Homo sapiens: one gene and its partners. The protein of the gene in region 3 interacts with the protein of the main gene of each other region in a biochemical or structural test. Each region holds a gene or a part of one and is shown on either strand. Other genes may lie near its edges.

The links. The genes of interacting proteins can lie anywhere in the genome.
Region 1: the proteins of PDK1 (region 3) and DLAT form a complex in vitro, tested with the Homo sapiens proteins (one study listed by BioGRID).
Region 2: of the proteins of PDK1 (region 3) and PKN2, one has a biochemical effect on the other in vitro, tested with the Homo sapiens proteins (one study listed by IntAct).

The regions. Positions count from the first base shown.
Region 1 is NC_000011.10:112,020,781-112,028,410, reverse strand, and holds the start of DLAT (dihydrolipoyllysine-residue acetyltransferase component of pyruvate dehydrogenase complex, mitochondrial isoform 2 precursor), read right to left. Parts: upstream 3,004-7,630; 5' UTR 2,939-3,003; coding exon 2,660-2,938; intron 2,214-2,659; coding exon 2,112-2,213; intron 1-2,111.
Region 2 is NC_000001.11:88,680,316-88,687,275, reverse strand, and holds the start of PKN2 (serine/threonine-protein kinase N2), read right to left. Parts: upstream 3,004-6,960; 5' UTR 2,696-3,003; coding exon 2,648-2,695; intron 2,113-2,647; exon of another isoform or gene 2,072-2,112; intron 1-2,071. UniProt on the Homo sapiens protein: PKC-related serine/threonine-protein kinase and Rho/Rac effector protein that participates in specific signal transduction responses in the cell.
Region 3 is NC_000002.12:172,601,088-172,608,113, reverse strand, and holds part of PDK1 ([Pyruvate dehydrogenase (acetyl-transferring)] kinase isozyme 1, mitochondrial isoform 2 precursor), read right to left. Parts: 3' UTR 1-7,026. UniProt on the Homo sapiens protein: Kinase that plays a key role in regulation of glucose and fatty acid metabolism and homeostasis via phosphorylation of the pyruvate dehydrogenase subunits PDHA1 and PDHA2.

The sequences.
Region 1 (7,630 bases), on a different chromosome or scaffold from region 3:
GTCTCATTCTGTCACCAAGGCTGGAGTGCAGTGGTGCAATCTCGGCTCATTGCAACCTCCCCCTCCCAGGTTCAAGCGATTATCCTGCCTCAGCCTCCCGAGTAGCTGGGATTACAGGAACAGGCTGCCATGCCCGGCTGATTTTTGTATTTTTAGCAGAGACGGGGTTTCACCATGTTGGCCAGCCTGGCCTTTGTGTCTAGAATTATACAGTTCATGTGAAGATAAGGCCACTACGACAGATTTCAAAGAAGAAATTACTTTAGAAACGCCTTGGTTAAAATCAGTTTGGCCAGCTGCTGACAACTTATCCAACCAATCTTGTCTAACATCAAGTTGTGAAAAACACTTCAGTTTCTTAAACAAAGGGGTAGCTACACATCCAGAAAGTCAATGTTCAGTCAATTAGGCAAAGCCAGTCTCTTCGAACTCATCTCCGTTACTTTAAAACAACTTACCCTCTCCCTCTCCCTCTCCGTCTCCCTCTCCCTCTCCCCACGGTCTCCCTCTCCCTCTCTTTCCACGGTCTCCCTCTGATGCTGAGCCGAAGCTGGACTGTACTGCTGCCTTCTCGGCTCACTGCAACCTCCCTGCCTGATTCTCCTGCCTCAGCCTGCTGAGTGCCTGCGATTGCAGGCACGCGCCGCCACGCCTGACTGGTTTTCGTATTTTTTTGGTGGAGACGGGGTTTCGCTGTGTTGGCCGGGCTGGTCTCCAGCTCCTAACCGCGAGTGATCCGCCAGCCTTGGCCTCCCGAGGTGCCGGGATTGCAGACGGAGTCTGGTTCACTCAGTGCTCAATGGTGCCCAGGCTGGAGTGCAGTGGCGTGATCTCGGCTCGCTACAACCTCCACCTCCCAGCCGCCTGCCTTGGCCTCCCAAAGTGCCGAGATTGCAGCCTCTGCCCGGCTGCCACCCCGTCTGGGAAGTGAGGAGCGTCTCTGCCTGGCCGCCCATCGTCTGGGACGTGAGGAGCCCCACTGCCTGGCTGCCCAGTCTGGAAAGTGAGGAGCGTCTCTGCCCGGCTGCCATCCCATCTAGGAAGTGAGGAGCGCCTCTGCCCGGCCGCCCATCGTCTGAGATGTGGGGAGCGCCTCTGCCCCGCCGCCCCGTCTGGGATGTGAGGAGCGCCTCTACCCGGCCGCGACCCCGTCCGGGAGGTGAGGAGCGTCTCTTCCCGGCCGCCCCGTCTGAGAAGTGAAGAGACCCTCCGCCTGGCAACCGCCCCGTCTGAGAAGTGAGGAGCCCCTCCGCCCGGCAGCCACCCCGTCTGAGAAGTGAGGAGCCCCTCCGCCCGGCAGCCACCCCGTCTGGGAAGTGAGGAGCGTCTCCGCCCGGCAGCCACCCCGTCCGGGAGGGAGGTGGGGGTCAGCCCCCGCCAGGCCAGCCGCCCCGTCTGGGAGGGAGGTGGTGGGGCCAGCCCCCCGCCCAGCCAGCCGCCCCGTCCGGGAGGGAAGTGGGGGGGTCAGCCCCCGCCTGGCCAGCTGCCCCGCCCGGGAGGTGAGGGGCGCCTCTGCCCAGCCGCCCCTACTGGGAAGTGAGGAGCCCCTCTGCCCGGCCACCACCCTGTCTGGGAGGTGTACCCAACAGCTCATTGAGAACGGGCCATGATGACAATGGCGGTTTTGTGGAATAGAAAGGGGGGAAAGGTGGGGAAAAGATTGAGAAATCGGATGGTTGCCGTGTCTGTGTAGAAAGAGGTAGACATGGGAGACTTTTCATTTTGCTCGGTACTAAGAAAAATTCTTATCCTGTTGATCTGTGACCTTACCCCCAACCCTGTGCTCTCTGAAACATGTGCTGTGTCCACTCAGGGTTAAATGGATTAAGGGCAGTGCAAGATGTGCTTTGTTAAACAGATGCTTGAAGGCAGCATGCTCCTTAAGAGTCATCACCACTCCCTAATCTCAAGTACCCAGGGACACAAACACTGCGGAAGGCCGCAGGATCCTCTGCCTAGGAAAACCAGAGACCTTTGTTCACTTGTTTATCTGCTGACCTTCCCTCCACTATTGTCCTATGACCCTGCCAAATCCCCCTCTGCGAGAAACACCCAAGAATGATCAATAAAAAAAATAAATAAATTAATTAAAAAAAAAAAAAAAAACTTACCTCTGCAATTAGGTCACCTTCATTGATTTTGTCCCCCTCTTTTTTTTCCCAACGGGCTATGGTGCCTGCCTGCATTGTGGGGGAAAGAGAAGGCAATGGAACCTGGAAAAGGAAAAGAAGAAACATTAAAATTTTTAAGGACTACCTAACTCTCAGTCTGGCTTAAGATTTCATTCAATTCAATTTCATGCAAAGTGTATACAGTTCCATTGCACATTGGGAACTAGGGATGCCAAGGGAGTTCCTGTCCATGAGAAGTTAGTAATTTCCAGTGACAGGCTTTCTCCTCCACAGTCCTGTGGGTCTGACAAAGCATGAACCTCGGCAGATATTCTGCATACAGCCCCAGTCTTGAAGCTCTCCTTTCAATGAAATAGATCATGAGAGGGACACTAAGGAGCTACAGCAAAGCCAACTATTGGACAAAGGGCCAAAGCAGATACTGGGAATGGGTGGAGGATCAGTGAGGCCTCTCAAGGAGGATCTTGCAGGCATCCAGTCAGCTCTGAAGGACAACGGGGTCCCGAGAAGGGGGGTCTAGGGCTCACCTTCTGATGCGGGGGAAGACTGTAATAGCGGCGGCCGGGCGACCCCAAAAGCTGCAGCAGTAAGCGGTTCCGCGGCGTGGCCCCAGAACTGGGGGTCCAGCCGCACAGTGCCCGGACCCCGCCATACCCTGTAGTCACGCTGTTGCGACGAGCGGGAGCCGGGCCAGATCGCGAGGTCACTCGTGGAGTTCCGGGTACCTCCTGCAAGGCCGTCCACCGAGCCTCGAGTCCCGCCCATGGGGCTACATTCTGAGCCCGTCGCGCACAGACGCGCCACATAGTGCCACCAACCCCCCACACCCCAAAACCAACGCCGTCTCCGGAGTGACCTCTCCAAGAGCAGCGGCGTTGCCGTCAGCCACACCGCACAGCCGCACGTTGTCGTAAAATGGTTCCCGCAGGTTTACTCCACCCGCTCCCCAGGCCAGAAATGCGCGGCACGCACGCTCTTTCTCTACGGAGCGGGGACGAGGGGCACTACGGGGCAGGAGTGTTCCAGAGGGGCCTGTGCGGGCGCAAGTTTGGGAGAAATAACAGACGGAAAGGGGTGGAAAGTGGTAGGGTTCTAGGGGAGGCATCCGAAAGGGTGAGACGGGGCCTAAGAGATGACAAGGGCACGACCGAGGGGGAGGGGCCTAAAAAGGCGCAGAGACGCGGGTTAATTGCGGCCGAGTGGCCTGAGAGTCTGGGCCGAGGGGCGTGGCCAAGCTTTCTGGAAAAGCTGGAAGTGAGCCCGGGAACTGGCTAGGGCAGTGGGAGCCTCAGGCCAAAGGGCGGGGGTCTTGGAGTGCTGGGGTGGTGAAGGAGCCAGGAATCGCCCGCGAGGGAATCGAGGGGTCCGGCGTGGTGACCTCTGCTTCTGCGCATCCGAAGGGGGATGGACTGGGCCGCGCCCCGCGCAGGCTGTACTGGTTGCAAAGATTTCGTTTCAGGTTTGTAGCCCAAGTGGAAAGTGGAGTGAACAGGTGTTCCACCCAGCCAAGTGGTAACGAAAGGCAGCCCAGAGGAAGATACATTCCCGCATTCATGTATACTGTAGCAAGATTAAGCATATTCCCTGTATGAAGATATAGGTTTACAAAACAGGTGTTGCTCCCTAATACCATAGAATTCTTTTAAGTAACCAAAAGCTTCGTTATGTTTCAAATGTTTGAAAAACTTAACTGTAAGCCGTTGAAGGCATGAAGAGTGTCTGCGTGGTCCTTCCATGTAGCCCCAGAGCTTAATATCCAGTAAATAGCGGGGGCTGAATGTATGTCTTTTGAATCAATGAATAAAAAGTCATCTACACATTTTGTTAGGCACGCTTCTCTTGTAAAGTTGTCTTTTAATTAGAAAACATATCGTTTCTGAACTGAAGGTGACATTAGATAAGGAGGAAGCATGTGCTGTGTATCACCACCTCCCCCCTGTAGAGATGGTTAGAGAACACCAAGAACGCAAGAGGAAGTTGGAGGGAAGAAACTTAAAACAAGATTTTAGCCAGGAGCGGTGGTGCATGCCTGTAGTCCCAGCAATGCTTGAGAGGCTGAGGTGGGGGAATCACTTGAGCCCAAGAGTTTGAGACCAGCCTGGGCAACATAATGAGACTCCCATCTGTTAAAAAAAAAAAAAAATGGGGGCTAATCTTGCTAACAATTAATTTGGAAAACTAAAACAGATTGGATGTACTATTTCATGCCTACTTAAATTGGAATGTTTAAGCAGGTACAGCTGTCTATCAGAATAATATGTAAGCAATATAATTGAGAAATATAAAATTTCTAGATTGAATGAAAAGGCATATTTTAAATAATATGAAGAGAGCAATTATATTGTTACAATTATGTACAACTTATGAATTAACAATTGGAAGAAGCAATGAAAGAATAATTGTAATTACTGAAAGGACTTATTACTATTATTTGGGGATGGAGTCTCACTCTGTCGCCCAGGCTGGAGTGCAGTGGCATGATCCCGGCTCACTGCAACCTCCACCTCCCAGGTTCAAGCGATTCTCCTGCCTCAGCCTCCCGAGTGCTGGGATTACAGGCACGTGCCACCATGCCCAGCTAATTTTGTGTTTTTAGTAGATACGGGGTTTCACCATGTTAGTCATGCTGGTCTCAAACTCCTGACTTCAGGTGATCCACCTGCCTCGGCCTCCCAAAGTGCTGAGATTACAGGCGCGAGCCACCATGCCCGCCCAGGACTTATAAATTATTATAAAAATGTTTTTGAGTTGGCTAAAATATCTTGCTGCTTTTGCTGCATTTGAACTTAATAACTGGATCTAAATTAGACTTTGGTATAAAGTATGAGGTGATCTTCCGGATCTGTTGTGCACTTAGGTATGCTTGCTTAAACCCTGTTTTGCATTTTTCAAAGAATAGCGAGTTTGTGTCTTGAATATACTTTTGACTTAAGTGTAGTTAAATTATAGGAATGCATAGCTCAAACAGTCCAGAGATGGCGAGCTTACCCCAGAGGTGGGCTAGGAATGCTTAGGTTTCTCAAATCAGTCCTGAGAGAACAAGCTTGAATTCCACTAAACAGACTGGATAAAGGAAATTATGGAAAAGGAGACTCAAGACTCAAAGGTTTGAAATAGAGATACTTAAGAGAATGGTGATATCACTGATATTGAGAGAAACAGAAATTAGTTGGTAGTGAAAGATTTTGAGTTATGTACATATTTAATTTTAACATAATGGGATAGCCAATTAATAGTTGAAAATACGTAATTGGAAGTCAAATGAAGGCACTCAGGGATAAAGAATTTAATATAGCAAACATTTAAGATGAATTGATAAGAGGCATTTAAGAGGCAGCTTTCAAATGATCTGGGAATTCTGGTCATTTTAAATACACATTTCTGAAAGAGTTCTTAATGCTTGCATACTGACTTTTGTCATAGAGTTTATACTCTTGGGTTCTTATTTGTTTGCATGTTTACATATAATTTCAAAATAAGTGCTAAATAAATTGTCCTTGATAATAGCCTATGTGCTTACATAGAAATACTAATTGTAAAATATCTGTAGCAATAAAGTAATTCTTATCTCCACTCCACATAGTGAGTAAACATGCTACCAGGGAGATCACTTGAGGAAATTTGCTTTCACTAAATGTAAATGGCTTTATTGATTAATCTCATCAGTAAACGCAAGTGAAAATCATTAATGATATTTAGTTTGCAAACCCCATTTTATTCATAGTTTGTGGTTTTTTAAATTAGTTCACAAATCTGGTACATACCGGCAGTTAAAACTGGTTATCACTTTGATAATCAGAAGCCTCTGGTGTAACATAGTCTTCATGAAAACATATTGTAAAACAGGGAGAATACACAGTAATAATCTCTTTGAAAGCAATGGCTGTAAACATCCATGTTTCTAAGAAAATATAACTTTACATATATATGTATTTTAAGCAAGCTATACCTCTTACATAAATTCAGACAGTAGAAGGAGTGTGCAATCATAATGCTTATTTTATGGAAACAGTGAAAATAATTTTAATTATGACCTAAATGCTTTTAAGTAATTAAAGTCCTCTTGAATTGGATGTATAGTATAAAGATATTTTCCCTAATTTGCAACCATCCTGGTCAAAAAGAGCTGAAAAGTTGGTCAGTAAGTAGAAGTGCCATTACCAAGTAAGTTTAAAACAAATTCTTCAAATTTAAAAATGTAAAAATTGTAAAGTATCCCAATCCCCCCAGCTAATTTAGGGAACTGAGCAAGAAGAGAACATTCTTCAGTTTTTAAATGACTTTTTTTTTTTTTTTTTTGGAGATGGGGTCCTGCTCTGTAGCCTAGGCTAGAGTGCAGTGGCATGATCAGCTCACTGCAACCTCAAACTCCTGGGCTCAAGCAATCTTCCCACCTCAACCTCCTGAGTAGCTGGGACTACAGGTGTGTGCCACCATCCCCAGCTACTTTTATAATAAAATTTCTATGTAGAGACGGAGTCTTCCTACGTTGCCCAGGCTGGTCTTGAACTCCTGGGCTCAAGCAGTCTTCCTGCCTCGGCCTCCCAAAGTGCTGGAATTACAGGCATGAGCCACCACACTCAGCCTTAAATGAAGATTTTGTAAGGAATTGAGCATTCAACTAAACTCGTTTTTGTGAGATGGTCATTTTGTTTTAACCTAACATGGTTTAGAGATTATTTTATGAACTCTAAGCATTCTGGTTCCTCAGTTTTCTCAAAGAAAGAGAACTTTAGCAAGTAGCAGGACAAGCTACCCCACACCAATGCCACCAGGCGACAATACTATGAATAAGTCAGGAGGCCTCCTAGAATGCAGCCAAATAGGAAACTGTTCCAAACAGAATCAGTCTTGCATACTTCTGCTCAGAAGGCTCCTCTCGCTTTGGAAACTGGAATGAGGATCACCAACAGGATCCTCATTTTACACAGGAGTTATGAGAGTTACATCCTCTAGCAGAGATGCTTGGTCATTACCTGTGGTACATGAGATTACCGAGCTAAAAGGGAAAAAAAACGATCTTAATGTTCTCCCATGAACTCAACTTAAGCTTTTTATGGAGGCACTGAGGCCATGCAGCTCCTTTTCCAAAAGACACAGATAAAAGCCAAATAAGGTAGAGGACTTTGGAAATTTTCTCTGAAAAGTTAAATTCCACATAATAGTAAGACTGTTTGCTGAGAGAAAACTGACAAGTAAAAACTGGTTTAAGAGACAGACATTCAAGACAAACTGTATTGGAAATACAATAATGAATTTTGGCCTGATAGCCCTCATGCTGTCTTATAGCAAAACACTAAAATTCATGCAACAGAGAAATTGGTGACATGAGGACTTTTTCTCCAGACTTCCTGGGGAAAAACTGTGAGAATATACTTTTTTCTTCTGTTTGCTTTCGAAATGCATTCTTTCTTTTGCTGACTTTCCCAAACTTTCCCAGTCGTTTCTGATGAAAAATTCTTCAATAGGAAAAGACCAGGTAAACTTACATGAAAGAC
Region 2 (6,960 bases), on a different chromosome or scaffold from region 3:
TAATGCTTCCTTGTTGAATAAGCCTCCTGAATTACTAACAATACTTAAAAACATTACTCCATGCTATTACAGTAATTAACAAGACAGAATACTGTAGTTTCAGATTTTCTTACTTTGCCTTTCCATGACCAAAAGCCAATTCCAGCTCAAGCAGTGGAGTATTTCAAATTCTACAATTTGAAAAAATAATGAAAAGCTGGATATATTTCTAAATAAATATCAATTTTATTAAAGCCAGGTTGTAATATGTAACTTTCAGAGTAAACAAGTATTCCTGAGACAGGATACATAGCAAAGTAACAGTTTTAACCATTAAATACATCTTAAAACTGGCTACAAAACTTCTTAAATACTTAAAATCTGTATGGCAGAGAAGAATTAAGAACTTCATATTAAACAGTATTTCAGTCTAAATTCAAACAATTTAGAAGCTTTTTAAAAAAGTGAATCTTGAAACAAAAGTTTAATAAATACTTGGTTGCTGTACACTAAGTTTCAGGACCCAATGAAATAAAAAGTCTGAATAGATGGAAATATTTGGAGAAGCAAACTTTATGACTATTTATCTTTAAGTGTTGATATAAGTAATAGTCGCAAACATTTTAATAAACACGATAAAGTTTAAATGCAATAACTTTTATCAAAACTGGGAGTCAAATAAACCAAGAAAATGACTTGGATATATGACAACCTATAAGGTAACACTTAATAAAAACTATTCTTTTTCTGGAAGGGGTTATATTTCAGTTTATCTAGAAGCTTAACTTTAGGTATTCCTCTATTTTGGTCGTATTTCTAGGTCATCATATTTAAAATTTCTTCCTTCTTTGCTTGCTTCCTTGTTATTATCAAAATTGATCTTATTAATTAAAAGATCCTAAATGTTATTAATACACATGAAAATATATTTTCAGTTCCAGTGCCAAAGTAGGTGTCTTTTATGCCAACTTTCTATAACATACAAGTACCAATGCCAAATATATTGTAACTCTAACACTGCTCAATTCAAAAGAAAAGTGACCCTATCATCTTTCTCAATCAAAACCAAAGTATGTTTTTCATGGTTCAAGACCAGGCAATGTAAAGTATTTCTGACTTGCCTCACATCATCTTCATTTTAAAAGCTCATGTAAATTATTTACTATTAATAAAATAGTAAATTCCATTCATTTAGCAAATGTGGTATGCTGTAAGATCTGCTTATAAAAGGCTAACTGTAATTAAAATACTACATAGCAACATTTTCAATTATATGAAATTCAGCTTTGCATTACCAAAGGATTCTAAATGTGCAACACTGCATTGATATACATTGTTAAAGTCTCTATTTTTGTGGAGGAAATATCAACCATTATACCAAAGTTTTCAAGCTTACGTCTGACTGCACAAGAAACCAAACTTATAAAGAGATTTCTTAAAAAGTATATTTAAACAAGAAATTTAGATGCAGTTGCAATACTTAATTTTGACATCAACTCTTCAGAATTTCTTGATTTAGTCTTTTTTTTAAAAAAAATTAACTGTCCAACACACAAAAAGAAATGCAGGCATGCTATTTTTTTCTCCTAATTCCCATCTACAATCTTTGAGTAGCTAAAAGATAACTATATTAAAATAAAGCAAAATAACTTTTAAGTCAAAAAACAAACATCTCTGGAACACTCCCAAGTAATGAAAAACCCGACAGGGTAGCTTAAGTCCCCATGTACACCATAGAGATCTAAAGAAAATCGTGCCTACATTATCAAATATTTATCTGGAAATGGGAAATAACATTGCTACTCGACATGACTTAACTAAGCGATCTACTTTGCTCTCATCTTTTGCAGACATGTGGTGCCCAATGTTTTCCCTTAGTCGACTGCTTTCTCATTAGTAAACAACTTATTAGCTCTTTCTCTGGTGCTCAAATGAGAGGGAAAATGAAAGTCTGAAAAGCATCAGCATCTGAGCTCCCGGATCTGGGCAGGGGTAGCAGAGAAAGGCACCCTGTATTTATCACTCGGTTAAAAAAAAAAAAAGAAAGGAAAAGAAAAGAAAAAGATAACCCTCAAAATAGAGGAAAGAAACTCTGTCACCTGAAGAGGGCTGCTGAAGTGAAGCAAACATTTGGTGAGACTCGTTTTTTAAAAAAACTTGTCTAGGGGCTGGAAGTTATGGGGGCGCTCTTTGTGCGGAGTCTGAGGGGAGGGGGAGGGACAAGAAAACAGCTTGGGAGTCATTCAAAGGAGTTTAAGGAGCGGTGTACGGAGGAAAGGCGGGGCGGGGCCCGGCCGCGCGAAGGGAGGGGGCAACAGGGGCGTTCGCGGGTAGCTCTGACACCGAGGGAGGGGGCGACGGGCCGGCCTCTCCGGGGACCAGGCGAGAGCAGGCTCCCGCTGCAGCAGGGCTGCAGAGATGGGGTCCCCTCTGGTAGGCAGAATCAAACCAAAGCGGTGGCAGGCCAGGGCTTTGGCGGGGGAGAGGGTCCGGCTCCCCAGGGAAGCGGTTCCCCGAGGGAAGCATTTCCCGAGTGACATCCCGGAGTTTCCGCACTTAGCGGGCTAGGGGCGCGGCGGCCGCAGGGCTTTCCTCGGTCCCCGACGCCGCGCGGGGCTCTCTCCCTGTCTCCTCCGCCAGCGCCTCTCACCAGGGCCGCGGCCCTTACCTGCAGTTCCGTGAGCAGAATCTCCCCCCGTTCGGGGTTGGACGCCATTGCGCTCCGGTATGGACTCCGCACCTGGACGCGGCCGCCTCTGGCGAAGGGAGAAGGCGGGACGGGGCTCGGGGTGGGGGTGAGGAGAGGGGAGAGAAAGAAAAAAAAAAAAACAACTAGGGATTCATGGAGGCGCAGCCCCTGCTGGAGGCGCGGCTTATTCCGTCCGGTTCATCGAGAGCGGCGGGGAGCTAGGGCACTCGTAGCGGGCTTCCTCTCGCCGCCCTCACCGGACTGTTCGTCTAGTCGCTCCCTCTGGGCGACGCCAGGAGCCGCCTCAAGCCTCTCCGTGCGGGCGCTGCGGCCGCGGCTGCAGCTCCTCCTGTCGCACCATTTGGCTGTCACCGCGTCGCAAAAGCGGCCTCACTTGGCGGCTGCCAGCACACGTGACGGCGGCAGCCACTGCCCCTCATCGGGCAGGGAAGGTGGGGCGGAGGGGTTCCCTAGGGCGAACGCGGCGAGGGGGCGGGGCGTCTTCCGACCCGACTCCGCGGCGAGGGCAGCCATTGGACTCGGCTGGGGTGAAAATGAGGGGAAAGGACTGGGCTCGAGTCTCTGGGGAGGCGGGAAGAGGAAGAAAACACACGCCTACTTTCCTGCTGCGTTTAACGGCTTCACTGTGAACGCTAGAACTCGGGAGCCTGCTCGCTGTTGTTTTTTCGGGTTTCGTTTTTTTTTTCTTTCTTTTTTTTTTTTCCCAGTTCCACCTTGCCGAAACTTGGGCCTAACTTTAACAGGCCCTTTTCTAACCTCCATAACCCAAAGAGCTTCGGGACTCAGATCTTACAGATTATTCCTCTGCTCTCCCCTTGACCCCCACGTCAACCCAAACTAATAATCTTGCCTTTTGCTCACCCTCAAACCCAGCCCCCAGCGCGCCTTCTCGACCAGTTAAGGTGCACAGCTAGCTAAACGGGTATGGTCTGTACTTTTCATGAAATGTAAGCGGCTGGATCCCTGGCAACTTTTAATGTACGGCCTTTAAGATGTCTTTTTCTTGAGGTTGAACTACTGTTGCTTGTACTGGAGAACTGTACAGAGCTGAGAATTAGCTGGGTTTTTTTGGGTTGTTTTAACTTTATTTAAGGGAGGGGGAGGTGGGACGGGATTACCCTCGGGAAAGGAAAAAAGCCACCTTTCCTTGGCGTGGTAAGCATTAAAGCTAACCTGACTACTTAGTAAAATATAGCTAAGTAAAGTAAATCTAGGTGTTTGTTTTTAATGACACTATGGTATTAAGGAATTTCGAAGTCTCCTACAGGTAGCTTTTGTTTTTGTTTTGTCTGAGCAGTGAATGGATAGGTAAACGCGTAACTTTTGATTTTTTGAAGCTGCGGTACAATACCTTTGTTAAAACTACCTGGAGAGAGTGGTAAGGGTTATTTAGGTACGTTGCTACTTAGAAAGGGCATTCGTTGACATATTTCTTAGGAAGTGTAACATTATGTACTTCTCACACGCTCCATGTAACTCTGTTGGCCTGATGCCAGGACTTAACGTCTATCCTTTTGCCTTCTCAAGTCTCATACATCAATTCAGCAAACATGTATTGAAGATCTGGAGTTCTGTGGCCACAGTTTCTGAACTCTAACTTATCATATGTGTGATAAAGAATTTTTCTGGTGTGTACTTCACAAGTCTTACAACTATTTATGTGTCTAGTATATTGCCTTGGTTGAAGATGATAATTAAATACATGAAAGAACACTTGGAAAGGCCGGGATATGATTACCTTTACTGGTAACTAAAAGCCAGATGGTTTCCTAGGCTTTGGAGTTACAGAAAGGATTAGGAGTTCTTATCCGGCCAGGCGCAGTGGTTCACGCCTTTAATCCCAGCACTTTGGAAGGCCAAGGCTGGCCGATCATCTGAGGTCGGGAGTTCGAGACCAGCCTGGCCAACTTGGTGAAACTGTCTCTACTAAGAATACAAAAACTAGCTGGGCGTGGTGGTGTGCGCCTGTAATCCCAGCTACTCGGGAGGCTGAGGCAGGGGAATTGCTTGAACCCAGGAGGTAGAGGTTGCAGTAAGAGTGAGACACTGCCTCAAAAAAAAAAAAAAAAAGGTACTTATCCTTGGGGTGACTGGAGAATTCTTTGGGGAAGCCAACTTATGTCCGAACAACAATAATGCCATTTTAAGTAATAGATACAGTGTTAGGGGAGCACTGCATGCATTTGTGTGTGTGTGTGTATAATGTTTTATTATGGTAAAATGCATAATCAAATTTATTATAACCATAAGTGTACAATTCAGGGGCATTGAATGCACACAGATTTATTTATTTATTTATTTTTGAGACAGAGTCTCGCTGTGTCACCAGGCTGGAGTGCAGTGGTGCCATCTCAGCTCACTGCAACCTCCGCCTCCCAGGTTCAAGTGATTCTCCTGCCCCAGCCTCCTGAGTAGCTGGGACCACAGGCGCATGCCAACACTCCTGGCTAACTTTTGTATTTTTAGTAGAGACGGGTTTCACCATGTTGGCCAGGTTGGTATCGATCTTTTGACCTCGTGACCCTCCTGCCTCGGCCTCCCAGAGTGCTGGGATTACAGGTGTGAGCCACCGTGCCTGGCGTACAAATTTATTTTTGTCAAGGCTTACTGCAGAATGGATTTGAGATGGCTGACATGCACATAGAAGGTGATTAATAATGGTGGAACTAAGAGTTAACTGTGCAAGGGCTTAGAAATACAGTCAATGAGCAGTCTTTGTAAAAATTAATTTAGATATAAATGTTCACATTTCAGCATCATGTAATTTTAGAACTAGAAGTGACTTGAAATATCTAGCTTAACTCCTATTGTAGGTAGGAAAAAAAATTAATAGTTTCCTTAGCTAATTAGAAGCAAGACAGCAGTATTACTTAGTGGCAGAGATGGGGACTATTACCTAAGTCTCCTAATTGCCATCCATGCTTGTTTTAACCTTCACCATGCCACTATAATAACTTTAAATTGATATTAAACTGAAAGCATTAAATTTTTACCGTAGAAAAAGACTTTAAATGTTACACACTTCTAATGTTAAAAGTGTTAATAATTAAAAAAAATTTTTTTGAGACAGTCTCGCTCTTTTGCCCAGGCTTGACTGCAGTGGCATGATCATAGCTCACTGCAACCTCAAATTCCTGGGCACAAGGGATCCTCCTGACTCATCCTTCAAAACAGCTGGGACTATAGGTGCACACCACTGTTGATAAGGAATATTAATTTTACATTTCACATGTAAATTTAAGCAACAAATATACAAAGTTTTTAAAGTTAAGGAATTATTTCTGAGATTAGCTGTGCTAGGGAAAGTAGTACAAAAGGGAGGCCAACAATATTAAAACTACTTGATAATCTAAAATATGTGATGATTTAAACAGCAAATTAGTTTCATTTAAGCTAAAATTTACTACCCAGGTCACATTCTCTGTTCAGGGGGAAAAAAACGTAATAGGACATGGATCATACTTATCAGACTGAAGCACACTTGAAAAAGTTTTAATGGAAACATATCAGGTTGATTCAGATGGGTTGTATTGGGCCCCTATTTACAAATGTGTTTAGAGAATCTTAAATATAGTTCAGAAGTAATTTACATTAACAATAAAAAAAAAAGAAGAGTTTTTTTAGTGTCCATTTAAGAGGGCAAAGTCCTTAAAAATATCTGGATTGTATCACTAGTTATGCTGGTACCTTTTTAAATTTTTCATAAATATTTTAAAGGTCTTTAAGAAGTAGAAATGACCAAAAATCTAGAAATAAATAGAAAGTGTTATCTTTTTTTCTTAAAGATGGGATGTTACAGGAAAAATTCTAGAAAAGCTAACAACTTTTTTTTTTTTTCATTTTCTGTGCTTTTGAAACAGATATTCAGATAATATGGGCCCTCTTTTTCCTTAAATTTCAAGTGAAATGAGACAGGAACCATATGTCCAGGGAAAGGGCCAGAAATCTTTATTTTGTGAGTCACATTTTTATTGCCTTCCGTTGTTTATTTCCCTTTTGCTTGTCCTTAATATTTGTAAACTGTTCAATTCAAACGTGTCCCTACAGTATGATGGAGAATCAATACAAGAGTTTTGTTTTGTTTTGTTTTCCTTTCGTTGTTGTTGTTTTCCATGTTAGAAGAAAAAGCCCACCCCTACTTCCAAAAGATTAGAATGAAGTAGCAGTGGTAATCAAAGTAAGAGTGCCTAAGGAAAGGCAAAACTCCAGAGGTCAGAGTAAGAATTACTTGGTCACCACCCTCTTCTTCCTTAAGAAACCCCCTTGTAGAA
Region 3 (7,026 bases):
TCTTGTGTTTACAGCCTTCTCTTCTACTTACCTTTTTGCATCAAGGGTCTCAATGTCAGTCAAGTATTAACTAAAACTGTTATTAATAAACTTTATTATTCAGATTTTTACCTTTTACTACAAAAACTGCACACTATCTGATACTGCTTGGATAACTACAGTCTAACACTGAAACACAGCTCCTTTTAAAAATATCATTTCTAGATCACTGCCCAGGAAATGTCTTGGAGTGTAAGTATACACTGAGTATGGTGTACTGCTCTGAACTGGAAACTGTAGGTTCCAGATGCCAGTTATCAACACTACTCTGCTCCTAAAGTTCCCCTATCCCCTGCTCCTTTTCCTTCCCCTGCTGCCTTCTGGTCCTTGCATCCTTGCTGCTGCTGAGCCTGTTCCCCTAGGACCGACTCTGCTACAACCAGATACAGGGTCAGCCTCCACTCTGAGTTTGGCCAACCTCCTTCCTAGTACCATTGTTTTGGGTTCACCATCACGATACCATCCCACTCCATTCTACTAGTTAGAAAGAACACAGAGCTTGGCATGATGCAACAACCTGTAGCCGTAGTGGTTGCTAAAGCAATGACAGTTGGCTTGTCTCAGGGTAACAGCAAGTCTTATTTTGGTTTGAGTCAGGCCCTGGAGTGGCAAAACAACTGGAGACATGTTGAAGCCATCATCCTTGGCTGGTTCAAACTACATCTTAGAGAACAGAAGGAGTTTTAGAAAGAACTGTATATGAAACTTAGCCAATTATATTTTCACAATTGTTTGATTCTATATTAAAAAAAATCAAAGCACTTACTATTTCAAATTTTTGTTTTAGAAGCAACCTCGCTCTGTCACCCAGGCTGGAGTGCAGCAGCACAATCATAGCTCACTGCAGCCTGGAACGCCTAGGTTCAAGAAATTCTATCACACCTCAGCCTCTGGAGTAGTTGGGATTATAGGCGTGAGCCACCATGCTTGGCTATTTTGGATTTTAATTTTGGACTCAAAATGTAAGCATGTTGATGTTAGTCTTTGGCTGGTTTAAAACATTCCTTTGAAGACAATATGCCTGAGAGCTAATTTAGACACAAACTGTTTCTAAAGGCTTACTCTTTTATATTTCCACCCTTATATAATCATACCACTGTAGAGAAAGATCCCAGGAATAAGACCCCAAAGCATGCTACAAAAGTGGCATGATAGAGAAACTACCACTGTTTAATGGGTGCAAGGTTTCCTTTTAGGGTGATAAAAATGTTTTGGAACTAGACAGAGGTGGTGATTGCACATTGTGGATGTACTGAATGACACTGAATTACACTTTAAAATGGTTAGTTGTAGGTCATGTGAACTTCAACATGAAAAAGGTTTTTTTTTTTTTTTAAAAAAAAAAGGAAAGAAAAAATAAACTACCACCATTCTCTCTGCTACCACAGAGCACTAAAATCTAGGAATTTGACTTTACTGCAGCCATTAACACCAGCACTGATGCCACTTCTGTATCAGGAACTTAACCTGACAACCATGAAAGGTCCTCTGAAAGCCAGATGATACATATGGCAAAACTCATGACAGCATATGGACAACTGCACAGAACTTGTGCTTCATGTTGCTGAGTGCAGATGTTTCTAATTACCGAAGTTACTGTCTGCCTCCTAGCAGCAAAAGAGACTTGAGGAAGTAAGGTTCATAACATGGAGGTTCACTAAAGTATAGAAAGGCCATTCAAAAGGTTGTGGGCTTCCACAAAAATGGTAAGTATTCATTACATCCTCCTAGCCTTCTGTGGATGCCAAGAGTTTGATTAAGTTCTAAGAGAGAGGAGATCTTCTTTACCTTCCAGAGGATGCAGGCAAATTGGCTTTGCTAAAGCACCCAATGTCTGCTTATGATCACTATACTCTCATCAATACTTCCCAGGTCTCCAGAATTAGGACAGTCATTTGTTGTTAAATTAGCTGTATATTTCTCCCAGCGATCATATTCTCATGAAGCCTGATCAACGACTGACCCATTTGGTCATAGGACTATGCTATCCAAGAGAGGACCCAGTGATGCCACCACTGAAGGTATCTATGAAATTAAATGGTTTTATGTCTATAATAGTACAGAGTTTTATGGTCACGCAAAGTATGTATAAAATCTGGCTCATGGAGTTTGGGAAGAATAGTGATTGGACTGCAGAAATTATAGCATCTATCAGGTTTGGGGGAGGGGGAGTTGTGGGGGTAGTAGTTAGTGAATATCAGCACGCTGACCTTTTCAAACAGGTGGTAAATGTCTTTCCACAGATCCTGCCCCTATGTTGGTCAGAGAGAAGCAAAGTAGGTGAATTATTTTCCAATAATTAATATTAGCATAAATGGGGCAAACATGAAAATGAAAATCTAAAGAAACCCACTCAGCACAGCTTTCATGAGCTCAGTGCCGACTCAAGATTTACAGAGAGGCTGAGCACGGTGGTTCATGCCTGCTATCCCAACACTTTGGGAGGCCAAGGCAGGAGGATCACTTGAGCTCAGGAGTTCGAGACCAGCCTGGCCAACACGGTGAAACCCCGTCTCTACTAAAAATACAAAAATTAGCTGGGCATGGTGGCAGGCACCTGTAGTCCCAGCTACTTGGAGGCTGAGGCAGGAGAATCACTTGAACCCAGGAAGCAGACGCTGCACTGAGCTGAGATCACACCACTACACTCTGGCCTGGGCAAAAGAGCAAGACTCTGCTTCCAAAAAAAAAAAAAAAAAAAAAAAATTACAGTGTAGACCAAACCTGGACAGTCTAGTTAGCTCCACTCACATATCTTTAAGCTCAGAGGCTCTTGAACGCCTATGTGTCCCACCCAGAGGCCTCCAGTGTCCTTGACTGTTCATAGTGGAATAGAAGGAGGCATTATGGTATTTGGTTCTATCTCTTGTGCCTCCTGTTGACTGGATCCTCACTTAGAAATAAAAGACTGACACAACCCAATGGATGGGCTGGGGTAAGATGCCAAGGAGAGTAATATAGGTGTGTCACTAACTAAATGGGCCAACCAAGCCCTGTGCCTCCTTCTTAAAATGGGGAGTCTATAGAGGGAAAAGTTTTCTCTGAGAGCCTCAGGAATGTTAAGCCTGGCATCTACAAATGTATCTTTGGGGCTGAGATCTTGAATCTTATACTTGCTTAATAAGCCATTTACTGCCTGCCATTTGGAAGATAAGAAAGAAAAGGGCATCAGAGATCAATGCCCCTAATGATAGTTGGATAAGAACATACCCAATATAAAGCTCCAAAATAATCTCGAAACTAGAAAAGTAGTCTGGCCACATCATATTGTGGCACAAAACAGTAACACTCAAGCAGCCCTGGACTGGGCCAGTGAAATTTTACTGCTGACCCTTCCAAGTCTAAATGGAGAGGGCTAGACAAGAGGGCAAAGTCAAGTTCATGGTGTTGCCATTGGACATACTGCCATTTACTCAATTATGGACACCACATCAAAGACCAAGTGAATAAGGTGGAACTATGTTACTTAGCTATCTCTAGTCCTCAGTAAAACTCCAGAGGCCATGATTTTTCTGAACTGGAGATTCAAACGTGAAATGTATTAGCAATGAACATTGGAGAGGAAAAACGTTTTTTTAAAAAAATTTGTAAGTTAAAAAAAAAGCAAATACTTAGATTTAAGTCTAACAAAATATGCGCGGAATCTGTAAGCTGAAAACTACAAAGTAACAATGAAAGAAATCAAAGGCAATCTATGTAAAGGAAGATATATGCTATGTCTGGCCAGGTACGGTGACTCACGCTTATAAATCCCAGCACTTTGGGAGGCCAAGGCAGGTGGATCCCTTGAGGTGGCGACACCCTGTCTCTGCTAAAAATACGAAAATTAGTCAGGCATGATGGCGCTCGCCTGTAATCCCAGCTACTGGGGAGGCTGAGGCAGGAGAATTGCTTCAACTCAGGAGGCAGAGGTTGCAGTGAGCCAAGATCATGCTACTAAACTCCAGCCTGGGTAATCTCAGAGCAAGACTCTGTCCTCACCCCCCGCCAAAAAAGATATACGCCATGTTCATAAATTGAAAAGCTATTGTTAAATTCTCCTCAAATTGGTCTAGAAATTTAACACATCACAATCCAAATCTCAGAATTTTTTTAGATATTGATGTTAATATCCTTGCCCATCAGTAGTGACAGAAGCATCGATCTTACCAGCCAAATATAAATGGACTCTCCTTTGTTAAACCCTCAGCAGTCACCCATACAGGACATTCATGTATTAGATTATGTGAAATGACTATAGTCATCCGCTAAATTAATGCAGAACATTAATAATGAAGTTTTATCAGGGCCTTCCATTCACAGGCATAAGAGGTCTTATCAACTGACTTTGATGTTACCTGCCTGGATCTAACCCTGGAGACTAGATCCACATCGACATTCACCAGAGAAAATCACTTGGACCTTGCTCTTTAAGGGGCCACACTAAGTCCTATCTACCCCCCACCACTGCTATAAAGTGCCAGAGCTTTCGGTCTTGGGTCCATGCTTCCCACTGCCAGAGACTTCACTTATTGCCTGCAGCAGACAACATTAGTGAAGCTCTCATTAACCACTCAAGTTTGCTGTCGTCTTCCATGACCTTCCCCATGAAATGGATACAAAGATAAGCATTACACATGGGTATCACTTCCTTGCATTAGCCAATTATCAGGATTTCCACTAGTTATATGTTCACTGGGTAAGATCCTTAAAATTCAGATGTCACAAAGATTAACTAATGGGTTTTCGATCTCGAGGTCATGGACACATCCACCAAGTACCCTGTATATCAGGAATAGATCCTTCTTATCTTTTTTAAGTACTCTAAGAATCAGATTACCAGATCTGTCTTGCCATTTGCTCTGTAACTGGTCTCGTCTTTCCAGCTGGCCCTTTGGGCTGCTAAAAGCAGTTTATCTCACAACCTTTAGTCCTTTGCTACTCAAAGTATGGCTCACAGACCAGCAGCATTAATATCACCAGGAAACTTGTTAGAAATGCAGAATCTCAGGCCCCACTCCAGATCTGCTGAACCAGTCTGCATTTGCTCAAGATCTCCAGGTGATTCGCATCAGGAGCATTGCTTACAAAGATTTAACCTTACTTTCCATTGGTTAAGTGAGTCCTTATCAAGCCAACCCTGATCCAAGAGTAACAATCAAGTTCAGCTGTGCACCACAGCAAATGAGGCATCACCTGATGGTTCTTAATGGGTGGTTGTTCCTATTTGTTGCTTTTGTTGGTCACTGAGAGTTGGTTTTAAGATTAAAGGGACCTTTTTCTCCAAAGGAAGATTTGCCACACCAAAGCAGGAAAGGCAATGGTTTACCAAACAAAAAAACCCTAGGCCCTTTTATAAGTCTAATGTTTACCCAAACACAGAAACATAAGATGTTTCTTTCCTCTATGCTCCAAAATATTAGGTCAGAGTTAGAAAGGAGAATCCATAGGCAGGTAACTTTTTGTTAACACCTTGCAAATGGTGATACTTGCAACGCCTGGCAAATGGTGACGCCTTGGACGTATTACTCAACAAATTTTCCATGGCAGGCCCATGGATCCAACCTCATAGACAATTCCAGTATGTCTGTCTTACATCTGACACTATACGAGGTTTATTGTAACATCCACTAATGGCTTATATAAGTGAGTTAAGCACTTTTAATTACAACTATCCCCCAAAGAAACTGAATTTCCTGTTTCTGTTGATGTGATCATATAGTTTTTCTCCTTTAATCTGTAGAGAGGTAAATTACATATTTTTATTAAAACATCCTCCTGTTCCTGGGAAAGATTCTCCTTTTGCTCATGATACAATATTTTATGCACTGCTACATTCAATGTGCCAATATTTCATCAGCAATTTTTCCATCTATGTTCATAAACAAGATTGGTCTATTAATATTTCACAGTCTTTGCTCAAGTGTAGCTTTGAGATTTTACTAACTTTCTGAAATGGGTTGGGTAGCTTTCTCTCATTTCAAAGTTTCTATAAGACAGGAATTATCAGTTTCTTGATGTTTTGGTAACATTCATCTTTCAAAAATTGTCTTTTGGCGAGGTGGACTTGTGATTACTGATTCCACTTCCTTAGTGGTTGATTTAAATTGTCAAAATCTTAGATGGATCTTCTACTGTTTTCCTAGAAATATATCCATTTCTTCTCCACTTACAAAATTTTTATCATAAAGTTAATGGTATTCTTATGATTATTTTAAATCTCTATTGGTAGTTATGTCCTTTAAAAAAAAATCTAAATACTGTTTATTTGGGCCTTTTCCTTTCCTGACTGGAGGTTTATCTGAAGGGTCCCTTCTGCTGCAGCCTGCAAAGCCTCCATCAAGGGACACCCACTAGCTGGTTGCTGCCACAGCTGTGGCTTTACCTACCCCAGCTAACCCAGCGAGTATTAGTCCATCCCCACACTGCTATAAAGAACTGCCTGAGACGGGGTAATTTATAATAAAAAGGATTGACTCACAGTTCCGCAAGGCTGCAGAAGCCTCCAGAAACTCACAATCATGGTGGAAGGCACCTCTTCACAGGGCAGCAGGAAGAATGAATGCAGGAGGAACTACCAAATACTTATAAAACCATCAGATCTCATGGGAACTATCACGAGAACAGCATGGGAGAAACCAACCCCATGATCCAATTACTTTCATCTGGTCTCTCCCTTAACATGTTGAGATTATAATTCAAGATGAGATTTGTGCGGTGGGGACAGAAAGCCTAACCATTATCAGTATGTTTGCTTGTTTACTTCTATTTTAAACTTTAAAATAAACCCGTAACTTTAGCAGTGCTGTTTTGCTACTCCTCTTAAATTCTCTCATTTTCTTGTGTATTTCATCCTTTTGCTAGTTTTGCACTGGTTACTACTCAGTTTCTTTGTTGTACTGAGTCATTTAAGTATCATTTTGAGAATGGAAAAAAATGTTATTAAGTTCATTATTCCTTATGTATTTACTGAGCATACAATTGTTATAGAAGGCAGAAAGAATTTAG